Linked DNA regions of Homo sapiens. The protein of the gene in region 1 binds, or shares a complex with, the protein of each later gene. Each region holds a gene or a part of one and is shown on either strand. Other genes may lie near its edges. The genes, in order: SLC7A9 and SLC3A1. A codon is read from its position in the direction of its gene.

Region 1 (3,912 bases):
AGGTCAGGAGTTCAAGACCAACCTGGCCAACATGGTGAAACCCCATCTCTACTAAAAATACAAAAATTAGCCAGGCATGGTGGTGGATGCCTGTAATCCCAGCTACTCAGGAGGCTGAGACAGGAGAATCACTTGAACCCAGGAGGCAGAGGTTGCAGTGAGCTGAGATCGTGCCACTGCACTCCAGCCTGGGCGACAGAGTGAGGCTCCATCTAAAAAAAAAAAAATTGACAGCAGGGAGGTGAAACTTCAGTCACATGGCAGAAGCACTGGATACACAATGAACCAATGGTCTTCAAGAACTGAGGAAAATTTTGCTTTTTAAATGAAATCCGTATTATTTTCCATGAGGAAGAGCTTATGAGAATTACTTGAATACTTTCTGTGTATTCAAGGGAGGGAGAGGGTGGGACTGCGGTGAAAAACACAACTTTAAGAAACAGGCTTAAGAAATGCTCACCGTGGACCCAAAATGAACTGAAGTGGAGGTTTCTGACTTAACAAAGGACCCTCACATCCCGATGTTCCAGACTCGGCACTTGGAAGAGGCCCAGGAAGACCAGAGGGCTGGTCCCGGACATTCATGGAACATGCAAGTTCAGTGTGTTCCGTGAGGAGGCGCCTGTTGCTCGCCCTGCGTCGCAGGTTCAGACCCTGATCCTGGCAGTGCTGCCTGAGCCCATGTGGGTAGTGGGTGAGGTTGCAGGGCTGTCTGGCCCCAGCGGGGGACCACTGCCCCACCCTGATGTCCTCACGTGGTCTCCTGTCAGCCTGCCAGGAGCACTTTTGACCCAGGGGGTATTCTGTGGTGTTTTGCAAACATGGATGTGCCAGGTACTATGATGAGTGCTGCAACATTAGGAGGAGTGACCCCAGCAAGCCGGTGGGCAGGTTCTGTCTAGGGTGGCAGGACCTGCCACTAGCCTCTCTGCTCAGGGCTCTGGGCATGGCAGGCAGGTAAACAGGTGGGCCCTCCCAAGATGGGAGGTGACGAACTTCTAAATCAGGACCGTGCCTCTGGGACAACAAGGGTCCCTGTGCTCTGCAGACGGCTTTCAGAGAAACCTGTGCCTCTCTCAGGTCTGCTTGCCCCAAACTGCTCCCAAACTGACCCCCAGAGACTGGCCCAGCTCCTTCCATCCCTGACCTTTGCTTCCATCTGATATCTGGGATGCAGTTAAGTTTGGCCCAAGGCAAAGCTACCAGAGTTTTGGCTGAAGGTAACAGCTACGATGCTTCAGATGCAGTGCTTATGCTGTGCCAGGCTGTCTCATAAGGTCTCATAAGGTGCTTCCTTCCCTATCTGAAAGGGCTTCGTGCTGACCCCTGAGGCTGCCGCCTGAGCCTAGGTCCAATCGCAGTGCGGGAGAACCTCTGCTCCCTCCCAGAGAGATCCAGACCCTGGCAGCCCTGGATGCGGACCGGAGCTTCCTGGCCTTGTGTTGCCTGTCCCCCTCCGTTTCCCCGAAGGGGAAGGTTTTGTGTCCCTTGTGATGAGCCAGGACATGGCTACGTGAACAGCACCACAGCCAAACCTGATGGGCATTTGGCCGCAGCTGCAGGGAGGACACGAGGCCCTGCATTGCCTCAGGCCTGCTTGTGATTCCAAGTGGTGAAGCCCCATCACTGGTAAAGAGGAGTGGGACGGGCTCAGCCGCTCTCACCTGCTCAGCCAGAGGCAGGCCCTTGGCTTGGGGGAAATTCCTGGGCGGGGAGGAAACTGACCAACAGCTGAGTTACGCACACACAGCGGTTCCTGTTTGAGCTGCCTGACTTGGGTTTTAAATATAGCCTATTAAGGCAATTAGCGAATTGGTTCCAAAGTTTATCTCCTCTGATTCCCAAAGATAAAAGAAGGCATAATTTATTTTATCTTTAGGTAAAAAGTGTAGACGATTTGGGACCATCTGGTTTTAAAAAAATAATCTGACCTAGACACAAATGAACAAAACAAAAACGGTTTTGGAGAGAAATTGGTGTTCCTGACCCTCCCCTTTTTTGTGTGGCGTATCTAAGCTTCATTGCAAAAAAAAAAAAAAAGGTGTTTAATAATTACCCTTATTGACCTCTGTACCTTCTGGACTTCCTTTGCTCCTGGGCACAAGACATGGCCATTTCTAGGGTTGGACCGTGCAGGCACGGGCGGTCAGCTGGGCCGCAGCTCCTCCGGCTCTGCAGGGTCACGGAGGAAGGTAAGTAAGGTCAGTAGGTGATAGAAAGGCTCATGGCTCTCCTGGCCGGGGCCTGGACAGATAATTTATTTAGAGAGAGGGTACAGGAGTGCATGGTTTTCTCCTAGTTCAGTCTGGAACTGGGTTTCCTCGGCAATGTTTTCTTTCCTTTCATCACTCAATGAAAAAGTACCTGGCCAGGCGTGGTGGCTCACCCCTGAAATCCCAGCCCTTTGGGAGGCCGAGGTGGAAGGACTGCTTGAGGCCAGCCGGGGCAAATAGCAACACTCCCGTCTTTATAAAAAATATTGTAAAAATTTAAAAAGTACAAAGAAAAAGTACCTGTATTGTGGATCTGTGATGTATGGGAGTGCCTTTAATCTTGGGAAGGAATTATAAGACAGACACTCCTTACCTGGACTTGATTCTGATAAATACATTCCACAATATTTTCATTTTTTAATTTTTTATATATATATTTTTTGAAACAGAATCTCGCTCTGTGGCCCAGGCTGGAGTGCAGTGGCATGATCTTGGCTCACTGCAGCCTCTGCCTCCAGGGTTCAAGTGCTTCTCTTGCCTCAGCCTCCCGAGTAGCTGGGATTAACAGGCACCCACCACCACACCCAGCTAATTTTTTTTTTTTTTTTTTTGCATTTTTAGTAGAGACGGGGTTCGCCATGTTAGCCAGGCTGGTCTCAAACTCCTGGGCTCAAGTGATCCACCCACCTCGGCCTCCGAAAGTGCTGGGATTACAGACCTGAGCCACTGTGCCCAGCCCGGGATGTTGTTAAATATTTCTTTTTACTTTTGAAAAAAAATGAAGTTGACCATAGAGGTAGAATGACTTTCAAGGCACAGGCACGTGGGCCAGGAGGCTCCCGGGGCCTGTCTGGGAGAGAGCTAAGCAAGCAGCTGAGCTTTGGAGAGCAGCGGGGAGCTGTGTTCCCCTGCCTGGACAATGTTAATGACTGACTTTGACTCTGGGGCCCAGCGCATGAGCCCTGAGGGACTGGCAGCGGCCCCCACCTGCAGCAATAACCAACACTGTGCTTTTGCAGCCAGCTCCCCTAGTCCAGGCCGAGCTTGCACTTGCGTCTTGTCTGCTGCTGCTGAACCAAGATTTAGCTGTGCGCCCTCCTTGCAGTCTCCTGGAACCAGCAGGAGGAAACATGGGGGATACTGGCCTGAGAAAGCGGAGAGAGGATGAGAAGTCGATCCAGAGCCAAGAGCCTAAGACCACCAGTCTCCAAAAGGAGGTAAGGCGGTCTCTGGTGGGGCAGGCCCTTTGCAGGTTAGGCAAGGGCGTCTGAACGAGGGGCGCAGGCAGTGAAATCCGGGCCGATCCCTAGTGACACGGCAGAAGATGTACTCTTTGATTTGTGAAGTACATCTTTAAAGGGATAATCTCTGGACTTACTTCTCTTTCCCTCTCGCCAGGGAATTCTGCATCTTCTTTTTTTTTTTTTTTTTTTTGAGATGGAGTGTTGCTCTGTCACCCAGGCTAGAGTGCAGTGCTGCCATCTCGGCTCAATGCAACCTTCACCTCCCCGGTTCAAGGGATTCTTCTGACTCAGCCTCCCGAGTAGCTGGGATTACAAGCACCCGCCACCATACCCGGCTAATTTTTGTATTTTTAGTAGAGACAGGGTTTCACCATGTTGGCCAGGCTGGTCTCAGACTCTTGGCCTCAGGTGATCCTCCCAAAGTGCTGGGATTACAGGCGTGTGCCACTGCACTC
Region 2 (3,912 bases), on another chromosome or scaffold:
AGGTTGCAGTGAGATGAGATCATGCCACCACACTCCAGCCTGGGCAACAAAGTGAGAATGTCTTTAAAAAAAAAAAAAAAAATTGGATCTCAGTCTATATTGGTTGTTTTTTTGTTATTGTTTCTTGAGACAGAGTTTTACTCTTATTGCCCAGGCTGGAGTGCAATGGCATGATCTTGGCTTACTGCAACCTCCACCTCCCAGGTGCAAGTGATTCTCCTGCCTCAGCCTCCCGAGTAGCTAGGATTACAGGCACCCGCCACCACGCCCAGCTAATTTTTTTGTGTTTTTAGTAGACACAGGGTTTCACCATGTTGGCCAGGCTGGTCTCAAACTCCTGACCTCTGATGATGTGCCTGCCTTGGCCTCCCAAACTATTGGGATTACAGGCATGAGCCACCGCACCAAGCCTGTTCTTTTCTTTCTAAACCTAGAATCCTAGGAGAAATAATCTCCTAGAATCAAAATTCAGTAACATCCTGACACTAAAACTCGTTGACATCCATGAAGACTTTCTTTAGCAATTCTCATCACTCCATTTAGAATCTAAAGTTTATGTCTGCAAATTAGGTGGGGTATTTTCTTCAAAAGAACTTCCCCCTTGTATTGGAGTCCCTATAACATCTTGCCTTATTATTGGTGTGCACTCTCAATTGCTGAAAGCAAAACCCTGGGGGAAGACACATTCACCTGAAATGACTCCGATCAATGCTGGCTTTAGCTATTTGAGGCAGCATATTTATGGATAAGTGCATGGTCTCTGGAGCCCAACTGCTTCAGTTCAAATCCCATAGCTGCCACTCCTACCTGTGGACATTACTTACATGCTCAGAGCCTCAGTTTCCTTGTCTATAAAATGGAGACAGAGTAATCGGAGTACCTACTTTAAGGAGATGAAATTTCTTTAATTCCTTCCTATTGATTCTGTTGAGTGATCTATGTAAACTTAATGATGGGTAATTTTATTGAGTGTTTACTATGATCCAGGCACTACTTTATATACATTATCTAATTTAATCTCACAACAGCCTTATAGAGGTTATTGCTATCACTTTTTTATTGATGAGACAACTGAGACTTATGTTAATTAACTGGCCCTAGGTCACACAGCTACAGAGCAGGACTCCTTCAGACCTACCTGATTCCAAAGCTGTGTTCCTGATACTTTAGCTGAAACATATGGATTTATATACTGTACTAGGAAACTATAGATCCAATAACAATGATAAAAATAATACTGCAGAGAAGGAGCTGGTATTTTTATTTTTTTCTTGAGATGGAGTATTGCTCTGTTGCCCAGACTGGAGCACAGTGGCATGATCTCAGCTCACTGCAACCTCCACCTCCCCGGTTCAAGCAATTCTCCTGCCTCAGCCTCCCGAGTAGCTGGTATTACAGGCATGTGCCACCTTGCCCATTTTTGTAGTTCTAGTAGAGGAGGGGTTTCGCCATGTTGCCCAGGCTGGTCTCGAACACCGTCAGGTGATCCACCAGCCTCGACCTCACACAGTGCTGGGATTACAGGCATGAGCTACCGCACCCAGGTGGAGCTGGTTTTGTTTTTTTGGTTCTTTTTTTTTTTTTTTTTTGTGATGGAGTCTCGCTCTGTCGCCCAGGCTGGAGTGCAGTGGTGCAATCTTGACTCGCTGCAACCTCTGCTTCCCGGGTTCAAGTGATTCTCCTGCCTCAGCCTCCCAAGTAGCTGGGATTACAGGCACCCACCACCACACCCAGCTAATTTTTGTATTTTTAGTAGAGATGGGGTTTCACCATGTTGGCCAGGCTGGTCTCAAACTCCTGACCTCGTGATCCGCCTGCCTTGGCCTCCTACAGTGCTGGGTTTACAGGCGTGAGCCACTGTGCCCGGCCTGGAACTGGTTTTTGAAAAAGAAAAAATAATAGCTCATGGCTAACATTTAGCTAATATAATCTCTTTTTCATTAACCTAATTTTCACAAAACTCCTGTGAAGTACGTAGTGTGATCTGCATCATTTTACAAAAGAGGAAACTGAAAGTCAGCAAAATAAGCAAACAGGAAAGGAATATGGCAGGCCCTGGTACAACCAAACTGTAATCAATTAGAGTTATGCAGGCTTGTTACATTATTACTTGAACCTCCAAATACACTTGGTTGTGAGGGATACACTGCAGATCACACACTAAGCCTGGGAAGAAATGAGAGCATATGCCGTGGTCAACCTGTATCTGCCGGGCTCCGTGCTGTATTGGTCCATGGTCTGCCGGAAGCTGCGGACAATGTCGTGCATTCCCACCTGCGTGGTGGTGAAGTCATGGTACAGCTCCGAGTATTGTGTGACCGTGTCCTTTGAAAACCAGGACGACATGGTTACCCTCATTTCATACATTGCATGCCCACAGCTCGCTCTATATGAATGTAGACAACCTCTTCAAAGGGCTCAAGCCAAGCGAGACGCACACTCAAACATGGTTTTGTGGATGGAGAAGAATGCTTCATTTGATGCTCAAGTTGTTAACTTTATAAATCTACTAAGCAATATTTCTCTAATAAACTGTCACCCATTTTAGCAAATAAATTTTACCAAGCAAAACACTGATTACAAAGTTCTCAACACGTAATTGTCAAAATGTTTCAGACCCTTTTAAAAACAAAAAAAAAGATCTTAGTGGTTATAGAGCTCATTATTACATGTATACTTTATCTGCTCACAAAACTATTAACATCATGCACTTAAATTTGTTTCTTTACCATCACTATCCTTTCTCCTAACTGTTATACTTTCTCGGGGTTTCAGTAAATTTTTCCTAGTTTCTGTATCTTTGTAGGATTTCTATGTCAGTGTCTCATTTCTATGTCTTTCTAGGATGACAATAATCTCCTAGAATCAAAACAAAAAATTACATCTCATCCAAGCCAAGGCCTCCTCACTTGAGCCTATGTCAGATGATAAAATTGCAGGAGTAAATGTCCTCTATTTTGTGGCCCTTGGTAGAGCCCACACTGTCCATGTCTTCAGAACCCTTGTCACTGAAGGACTCCTCAAGGGATCCCTCGCTCTGGAGGGAACCAGTGGAAAAAAACATCGAGTGCATATGCATTTCAAACTCTTGCACATTTCCTAAAGAAATAAATCAGGGTACTTGCTAGACACAGGACAAAACTCATCTTTGTAACTGGTATCTCAGGCTGAGAAAGAAAACACTCTGATGACATTTTCAGAAAAGGCAAAAGAAAAACGTTTAAAATAAAACTTTACCGGGATTTGGGTCTTATTTACTTGGATCTCATCTCTCAGGTGCTTTGCTTCTAGGAGGAATTTAACAGCATCCAAACTAAAACCATCAACACCCTTTGTGAGCCAGAACCGTAAAATTTCCTAAAGATGAAGAAGCAAAATGCTTGGTTACATTAACTACGTTATTATCACAACGTTTAATCAAAGTTTTGACTGTTAACAACTTGGCATCATAAAACAGATATCTACATACAGAACAAGCACAGTATTCACAGTCTATTTTTATCTATTTAGCATAACTGTCTTACTAAAATGCACTCTAACTGCATTTAGCGACTCCCACACCTCCTTCATATGTGAATTCAGAATTACAATTAGTTACATTTGTAATGGATGTTATAAGGATGTTTTCAAAGTTTAGAGAGTCTACTAAAAATGAAAGAATGAAACCATAAGAAAAGATAGGACTCAGAATAAACTAGGAAAGTTTCTCATCTCCCTCATGCCCAACTCCTTAACTGTCACTGCAAACTCAAAGAAAATAACACATTGTTCAATAGTTAAATATTTCACTCCTTACTAGGAAGGCAGATGAGAGGTGAAGTGCTTAGATATTAAAGGATCTCCTGCTAGGAGTAATATGGAAGGAACACACAGAAAAAAAATAGAATCAACCATCAACCAAGTAAATAACTA

What was found.
Region 2: the proteins of SLC7A9 (region 1) and SLC3A1 are in contact, whole or in part, in a cryo-EM structure (PDB 6LID), measured with the Homo sapiens proteins. Residues at the interface, in NP_001119807.1 of Homo sapiens: Cys137, Phe140, Tyr141, Val142, Gly143, Cys144, Pro147, Ile149, Val150, Cys153, Leu154, Ala156, Ala157, Leu160, Phe161, Thr164, Leu168, Thr279, Thr281, Asp295, Arg296, Tyr299, Tyr343, Val346, Arg347, Lys467, Thr470, Met471, His472, Gln474; in NP_000332.2 of Homo sapiens: Pro64, Tyr65, Ala66, Gly67, Met68, Pro69, Lys70, Leu73, Phe74, Phe76, Ser77, Tyr82, Pro85, Arg86, Phe90, Thr93, Val97, Leu100, Ile101, Ala103, Thr104, Ile107, Ile108, Ser111, Cys114, His201, Asp202, Thr373 (codon at 2,220), Glu374 (codon at 2,217), Pro375 (codon at 2,214).

Annotation. Positions count from the first base shown.
Region 1 is NC_000019.10:32,867,966-32,871,877, reverse strand, and holds the start of SLC7A9 (B(0,+)-type amino acid transporter 1), read left to right. Parts: upstream 1-2,110; 5' UTR 2,111-2,192; exon of another isoform or gene 2,193-2,201; intron 2,202-3,232; 5' UTR 3,233-3,343; coding exon 3,344-3,430; intron 3,431-3,912. UniProt on the Homo sapiens protein: Associates with SLC3A1 to form a functional transporter complex that mediates the electrogenic exchange between cationic amino acids and neutral amino acids, with a stoichiometry of 1:1.
Region 2 is NC_000002.12:44,299,416-44,303,327, reverse strand, and holds part of SLC3A1 (amino acid transporter heavy chain SLC3A1), read right to left. Parts: intron 3,358-3,912; coding exon 3,238-3,357; intron 2,326-3,237; coding exon 2,201-2,325; intron 1-2,200. UniProt on the Homo sapiens protein: Acts as a chaperone that facilitates biogenesis and trafficking of functional transporter heteromers to the plasma membrane.